Homo sapiens: one gene and its partner. The protein of the gene in region 2 purifies or fractionates together with the protein of the main gene of each other region. This does not show direct contact. Each region holds a gene or a part of one and is shown on either strand. Other genes may lie near its edges.

The links.
Region 1: the proteins of CCDC25 (region 2) and NPEPL1 fractionate together in Homo sapiens (co-fractionation; one large-scale study listed by BioGRID). This does not show direct contact.

What each region holds. Positions count from the first base shown.
Region 1 is NC_000020.11:58,702,800-58,706,299, reverse strand, and holds part of NPEPL1 (probable aminopeptidase NPEPL1), read right to left. Parts: intron 803-3,500; exon of another isoform or gene 731-802; intron 1-730. UniProt on the Homo sapiens protein: Probably catalyzes the removal of unsubstituted N-terminal amino acids from various peptides.
Region 2 is NC_000008.11:27,744,338-27,749,497, forward strand, and holds part of CCDC25 (coiled-coil domain-containing protein 25), read right to left. Parts: intron 4,262-5,160; coding exon 4,158-4,261; intron 3,943-4,157; coding exon 3,740-3,942; intron 1-3,739.

The DNA of each region.
Region 1 (3,500 bases), on a different chromosome or scaffold from region 2:
TCCTTCATGTCACTGCCAGGTCTATCGCCAGAAGAAGGGGCCACCTCTGCCCTCCTGCTAGTTCACACCTCCTGGTTAATAGTTCACACCTCCTGGTTAACCTGGGTCTAAAGAGGGGCCACCCTTCTCCTGCAGTGTCCACACTGTTTCCTATACGCTGGTTGACAGTGTTACACATTTTTACATTTTACAGGTTCCCAAATCAAATTCACAAGTTCATATTTTAAATTAACAGCAGGTCCTCAGAGGTAAAGGTTTGGGTATGAAATTTACTGAATCATTTTTGAACCCTTATCTTATTACACAAGCTTTGAATTTTAGTGCAAAGTATTTTTAGATGTAAATTGAGCTGCTTTTATAATTGAGTGAAAATGACCCATCTTGTACTACTGAAAATAAGCCATCTCTTCTGAGCTAATCTGTTTGAGAAAGCACAGGATTGTTTAAATGGAAAAACAGGGCCTCCGATCTGGAATCAAACCATGTGCAAAATGGGTCACACAGCAATGCCTGGAAACGGCTGCTCACTGTACACCATGTCTCCCCCGTCACAGCTGCCAGCTCCTTCCCAATTGCAGGTGGAGCCAGGACTGGGCTTGCAAATACAGCTCAACTGATTGATTGTGCAAAGTTTCACCAGCCCCCATATGTTGTTTCTGTTTTTATAGAAGAAACCATTTTCGCAGTGATTTAAGACGGTCTCTGCCTTTTTCACGGGGCTGACACTTACACCCCCTGTGCTGGAGTATCAGGCCACAGTCCCAAAGAGGTCCGGGAGCCACTGTATTCGTTTCCGTGCCCTCTGGGAAAATGAACCAATGCCAATTTCACGTTAGAATTTCCTTGCTGAAGCAGTAAAATTAATTTTTAAAACTCTCAACCCTTGGGTACAATACATTTTCCATATTCCGTGTGACTCATAATGTACTCCTGCTGTTGCTGACGGGCAGTGGTCGGTCAGAGCAGAAGCTCAGCTGTGATTGCTGGGGGAGTTCTGAGCTCCATGAGCCACTCTGGCCACGACACCATCTTTACTTGAAAGAAAAACTGACAGACAAATGGCATTTAATTGGATTTAGGTATCTGGCAGATATTTCCCAGAAAAGGAACAAACTGAGCCTCTTACTTCCAGAAACAGCTGACATTATTTATTGCCAATGGTATACATTTGAGCTTTTAAGCAAAAATCAGAATTTTGAAAAACTTTCTCCTATCACCATGACAACTTCCTCATAATGAGTTTTCTGATGAGATGGATGGTGATATTAAGTGATTTTTTGATACTATATAATGTAATGTGTCAAAAATTTGAATTTCTGCAGAACTCTGTGAACCAACATTTTTCAAGTGAACATTCATTTTTCCATGAAAAACCACATGTTCAAAGTGAGAGAGAACAGCGGATTTAACTGCCACAGAGCCCAAAAGTCTATTCATGAGGCTTCAGATTCCATGTTATAACCAGCCTTTAAGAAGCTACCACTTGTTGAGTTTTGGTGTAGTAGCAAAGAATGTTCATAGTTAGTTAGCTGAAAAAGGTACTAAAATCCTTTTCCCTGTTTCAACTATAAAATGCGTGAGGCCAGATTTTCTTGATACAGTTCAACTGAAACAACACATTTCCATAGACTACATCGGAAGCAGACGCAAGGTCCCTAGCTGTCTTCTATTAAGCCAGACACTGACAGGATTTGTGAAAATGTACAACAATGCTACTCTCTCAGTAAATTATTTTTTCATTTTGGAAGATGCTTATCTTCATAAAATTATTTATGATAACATGCAATGGATTTATATGTTATTTTTAATGAATTATACATGTTATAAATTTCTCACTTTTAATTTCCAGTAGAGTAAATATCAATAGACATTGTTATACAAAAAGCCTCTTTGGGGTCGGTACTTGTTAAGAGCGTAAAGGGGTCTCCAGTAATGCATTTGAGGCCTGCTAGTCCAGGCTGGTCTTGAGCTGCCCTTGAAATCTTTGAAAATGGAGCTGTGATTTTTTTTTTCTTGCAAAACTGGGAGCTGGGCTGGCTCCAGCCGGCTTGCTTTTTGAGGAGTGACCATTTCTGCACCATTTGCTCTACAGGCAGCCACTGGGGAGAATGCCTGCTGCGTTGCGTCTGCGTTTCACACCAGGCCGTTGGGGAGAGATTGTGAGCGCCTTCAGGTCAGGATTGGGGTCTTTGCATCAATGGCTGGAGCCTCAGCGCCCACTCCACACAGTAACAGCTCAGGAAAGGCCTGCTGGTTGATCCCAAATCCACGTAGAACGGTTCCAACTGCAGCGGGGAAGATGGGCTGGTTTAAAATAAAAAACCAGGTATTGTTTCACTGGTGCCAGAACACCCAGCTCTTCCTGGTATTATGGGGTCTGCAGACCAGGTGGACCCCGGGAATAGGCAGGGGCTATAGTCGCATTTTCAGAAGGTGATCTGGAGCCATGGAAAATGCCCTACTCTCTGGCAGTTCTACCAGCCACCCTCAGACCACAGCTTCCCTGAAGGCTGTGCAGCTGTGGCCTCTAGGGAAGGCCTGTGTGGTCAGGTTTTTCCTTTGTGTTAATTTCCAGGCCGGGAGCTGACTAACTGCACAGGTCTACCCACAGCCACATGAGATGAAGTCAGGTGCAACGATATTTTCCCTAAGTGACTAGAGTTAGTGCCACAAGCAAACGAATGAATTCCCAGGAAGCTCATCTTCTCACATTGGTCCACAACAAGCCGACATCAAAAACAAGCATCTGATCCAAGGAGAAGAGGGTCCACGACTCTACCAGCCAGAATGTAGCGGCTTCCAGGGTGACCGTGGGTATTGAGGGTGCGTGCGAGGGTGGGAGCAGCCAGTACCAGGTGCAGGCAGTAGGGGGTGCACTATCTGTGGCGAATTTAGGAATCATAACCGACTAGAAGTCAGTTTGCTTATTACCACCGTGTGCCGGTATCTCTGAACAAAGTCAGCAATAACATATTCCTCCTCCGAAAATCTGTTGTTGATTGAAGTTTAAAAAATTGCTGTGGCTACGGTTGCGTTTTAATCACACAAACAAAAGCTTCAAATTCGCATATCGTTGTTACTTATCCTGAAAGTAACATTACATGGACGTTAGCAATGACCCGACACAAAATCTACTACCCACATTCCTTCTGAGAATCGCTCTGACAGTCAGATCCTGTGGGCTGGCTCTGGGCACAGTCGGGGCCTCCAGGGCCCATGATTTCCTACCTCCCGGTGTCGAAACAGAGGACCCAAAATAAAACACGAGAGTGCGGGATGGTCAAAACGAAGACGCGGAACCTGCGTTCCTTCACTTCCCTCATTCCATGTGAACACTTGGAGTTACTGTGTCCAAAATGCTTTTGTTCTGCAGACATCTGAAAGCCACAAGAATCCACCCTGAAGAACTGAACACACAGTGGGTGTTGTGATTGCTGGAATTTACTGTGAAATGGGATTTTTAAGAATCTCTGCCAAATGATACCGTATTAAAGACTTTT
Region 2 (5,160 bases):
GACAAAGCACTCTGTCACCTCTAAGGGGAGGCAAGGATGCACGATTGCTTCCCTGAAGGACCTCACAGGTAACACGAAGAGGCACAGCACACACAGCATTATTTACAGTAGAAGGCAGTGGCAGTGTGTATAAGATAAACAAAAAAAGGTACAAAGAAGTTGGTTCTTCATGAGACTGTCATCCATTTAATTAGTTACTGGTCTCACCATTTCCTCTCCTACATGTTACTTCATTCATCCTGTAAGTCTATTCCCCAATATTCCACAAAACCTATAAAGGCTCTTTATCACTTACAACATGAAATTCTGGACTAAACCTTTTAAGTCACTCTACAATGTACCTAATTTTTCATTCTTTCACTTGCCTATGTGTGACCTTGACTCTGGCCTTGCCAGTTTGTTCATTCCTTGCCTCAAAGGAAGCACGATAGACTATTGGCTTCAGGATTAGACTTGAGTTTGGATTCCTGCTTTGTCAGTTACAGGCTACAATCTTTCCACATTATCCTCCATGCTGAAGTAATCTTTGCATGAAAATCAAGTTCATGTCAATGTTCAAATTGATGATATATTTACTGACTTACCATTTCACCTGGGTCTTGTACTTCTCTCATTCCAATTACCTGAGCTTTGGGTTCCAATTCTGATCTCCCAGTCTCTATCACAGCTTTTTATTTTTATTTTTTGAGGCAGAATCTAGCTCTGTCACACAGGATGGAATGCAGTGAGCTCACTGCAGCCTCAGCCAACAGGGCTCAAGCAATCCTCCCACCTCAGCCTCCAGAGTAGCTGCGACTATAGGCTTGTACCACCCACGCCTGGCTAGTTATTTGATTTTTTGTAGAGACAGTCCTAATTTTGTTGCCCAGGCTGATCTCAAACTCCTGGGCTCAAGCAATCCTTCTGCCTCAGCCTCCCAAAGTGCTGGGATTACAGGCATGAATCACTTTGCCTGGCCGCATCTCAACTTTTAAATATCCCTCTCTCAGGTAGTCATAGTCCTTACCCTTTGTTTTGACTGCCTCAACCTCTCATCTGTTATTCACCCATCCTCTTTATGACGTTTCCCTGACTATTGCTTATTTCTTCTGGTTTCGACATCTACATGGGTTGACTTAATTTTGATGTAATAAATGTTTGGTACAGTAACACAAAAAGCCAAATAAAAGAATGCAAAATTAAAACAGGTAATAGACACAGATTTCTATATCTTGGGTGGAAGATTCAAAGACAGAAATTAAAGTGAATGCTAGCACTGCAAAATGTATAAAAACACATTACAAAACAAGTCAGAAGCTTAGAGCCTATTGCTGGAATTTCACAGATGCTGCAGAACACAGCAAACGGCAGCTCTGGATGTGCCAAGCAAAGACTTGCAATGTCACCGCGTTCCATTCCCGGCACTGCAGCCCTGTGCCACGTTCTTCTGTCTTCTGCAGCATGTGACAGAAAGTTGTCTGTGTGGCACACGGTTAACGGAAATAAACATAGCAATTGTTTTTGGTTTTCTGAGATCCATGGAGATTATTAAAAAATACAAATGACCAGTGACAACTTAGAAAGTGGGACTGATTAAACTTTTGAAGGAAAAATCTTATTCAATAAGATTGAGTTTTCCCTTCAGTTAATAGGAGTATTTTATATGTTGATGACACTATGGAAAAAAGCCCAGAAGATACGAAACTGTGTTTTGGTGGACAAATTTTGTTTAAATGCTTGTAATTTTTGAAACTCATAAAAATCATACTAATGTCCTTAATTTTAGTAGCATGCAGCTTAATTTGAATTATGACATCTATAAATTACTTGATTGATTTATATTGAATAAAAATTACTTTAAAATGGAATAAATTGAACAAAGGGAAGAAGAGTATAGTAAGTAATATGTGTAGGTTTGAGAATCAGACTGAGACTAACTAGCCAAATGAGCTTATAACAAGTTTCTTGATTGCTTCTCAGGCTCAGTTTCCTCTTCTATAAGATGCAGATAAAAATCTACTATGGCTATTGTTGGAATTAAATGACAGAATGCAGTAAAGCACTTTGCAATGCAGTGTTTGGCAGATGGAAAATGTTCAGAAGGGTTAGCTAGTCTTCCTTATTCAATGTTGTAAGTAAATTAGGTGATCTTATGTTCCTAATATATGTTCCATCATGTTCCTAAACAAAATTATGTTCGATCCGTAAAGGGCACTAAAAGGCATATTTTCAGTTTCCCCCCACTCCAAACTCAAAACAAAAAAGAATTAACTGCTCTAAATCCTGCATCACTCAGAATTTCACAAATTTTACCTCACTGATGGAGTTAATACCGTTTCTTTCACTTCAAACACAAAGCAGACTCAGAATTCTAGGCCATACCAAATACTTAAACATATATGTTAGTTGGCCTCATATTAGCAGATTGTAACTCAGGGTAACATTTCTGAAGCTCTCCATTTGAACACTGTATTTTAAGTGAAGCCTGTTTTAGCAGAACCCCAACCAGAAACACGTGCATGCGAATAATAAATAACAGTACGTGTTCATTATACCTACATTCTGACCCAACAATCTTTCTAAGAATCCAGGGCATTCCAAGGAAACTGGGTTAGGACATGCCTAAGCAACATGTTTCTGATTCTACACCATTTCCAAAGGCAATATATGTTATAAGTAACTCTTTTTTCTTTTTGGCATATGTATTGCAAATAAACAAACATGGAAAAATCTAGGAGTTCTGTGATGAGAATTCGCAGGATTAATTTCCTTTAATTAGAACAACTAGGGGCTCTGCGGGTACAGCACTGTATGGCAGAACATCCACATTCTAGTCTGTAGAACCTATAAATATGTTATCTTCTATGGCAAAGTAGACTTTGCAGATGTCATTAGTTAGGACCTTAAAATGGAGAGATTATTGTGAATTATCTGGATTAACTCAATCTAATCACACTGTTCCTTAAAAGCAGAAAAGGCAGTGGTCAGACAGGGGGCTGTGACCATGGAAAGCTTGGAGAAGGAGCCACAAGCCAAGAAATGGGGGTGCCTCTCAAAGCTGAAAGGGAAGATTCTCCCCTAGTGCCTCCAGACACTTTGATTTTAGCCCAGTGAGAATCTTGCTGGACTTCTAATCTACAGACAATAAATGTGTGTTGTTTTAAGCTACTACATTTGTGGCAATTTGTTTCAATGGCAATAGAAAACTAACATAATCATTATTCTCATGGCCTTCTTCACTAGAATTTCAGGAGCCAAATTGTATTTGAACTATTTAGCTGTTTAAAAATGTAGTGCTTTGAAGCAGACCTCACTACATTACTTTAAACTTTCAAAATGTAAAAAAGAGTTTTAAAAACAGCTTTGAGAGTTACTAGCATTGGTTTTTAGAGCCAACACAACTTTACTTAAATAGCACAGCTAGTCAATAGTAAATACCTCCCACAGCACCTTTTCCTTTCCAGAAGAACTTTACAAACCAAACCAAACTAGGGATAACCTATGAAGGTTTCTCTATGAATAAAATTAGTTATTTTATTTCATCCACTTTCATATCCTGCTGCCATAAACAAGCAATTCTTTTAACCAACACATTAATATAAATGCCTTTTTTTAAAAAACTGATTTAAGGTTGAGCTTAAGCTGAGCTTGTTACATGTCCCTCCTTCCACCAATATATCGTTCTTAATGGCTAATACATGATTAAAATCATCAGGGAATAATCTTTGAGGTCAGTCTCAATGCCACAGCTCCGACATACCTAAGTTCATCCATTTCCCTCTTCTTCTTCATTTCTTCTTTTTCTCTCTTTTTCATTTCCTGAATTTGGGCTTTTTTCTCATTCCTCTCTTCACGATCTCTGCATTCTTTCTCTGCTGCTAGGTCTGGGAACCGCTCGACTTTGGTCTTTTCTAATCGGTTCAGGATCTCATTTACTTTCTTCTCCACTGTCACAATTTTTACCTTTAAGGGAGATAGGAGAAAAGATATTGCATCTTTTTGTTTTTTTTCTCCCAGAAGAGGGATGAGGCTTTCCAGGGGTTTAGCAACCCAGTTTAATTCCCTTTAGAAAACATATATCATGCTCAGCCCTCAACAACAATGGTGTCAGACAGAAAAGATAGGATACTCCATTCAGTATCAGGGCTCCGCCTCCTTCAGTGGCACAAAACACTTACATCCTTCTGCCTGTGAAAGCCTATCTGCCCCACATCCATGTCAGCTGTTTTCTTCAGGTTAGACCACGGCGTATATACCACATTAACGTTGTTCATCTTGCAGCCTGCCAAGAGAGACTGTCTTCAACATGCAGGCAGGATGAGACTGAGCAATGTGTTCCCTTACCCACTGGCAAACTGCCATAAGCCAACAAGGGAAACGGCTTAGAACGAACAGGCCACCCCTTGTTTTAAACCACCAATACTTTTTCAAAAGCCACCCACAAAAGGCAAATGGTAAAGCTGACAAAATTCAAACGGAAGTATTACTATGGCAAGTAGGAGTCCATGGATTAGCTTCAGGGACTTCTGAGGACTCTCTAAAATTGGATGCAAAATTTATCATTGAGTTTTTTTTTCAAGAGAAAAGGACTGAATATGTTTCCTCAGATTCTCAAAGAAGTCCTTGACTCTGAAGGTTAAGCAGCAACGGAAAGCCATGGCCTGGAACTCACAAGCCCTGGACTCTATCCGGGACTACCACGAGCTAGCCGAGCCTCTCTGGAGAAGTCCCCTGGCCCTCTGAATTTCATATGAAATGTGAGGAAATTGGACTAGTTTAATAGAGTTTTTGCTTATAGTTTCTTCAGCAGTGGAACCCTTTTACCAAAGAAAACACAGAAGTCATCAAAGCAGAGGCGCTCTGGATGGAAGGAGTGCCAGGTACCCTGTTCACTCCTCCTCCTGCCCCTTCACCGCCTCCTCCACCACTCATACCCTCCCTGGCAGCTCTGGAAATCGCAGTTTAATCACTGGTCTGACACTCTCTCTGGTCCTTCCAAATTAGATGGCAAGGGATTTCAATGCTTATTAAATCCCCATGTACACTGGAAAAAGCTGGAAGACCACTTTACCCAAGGGGTCAAGGTTAACACCACCAAAAATGGCACAAAATGACATCATGTGCTGCCTGACTATAATGTGCAAAACTTCACTTATGTAATATTCCTGCTCCAAAGTGCAT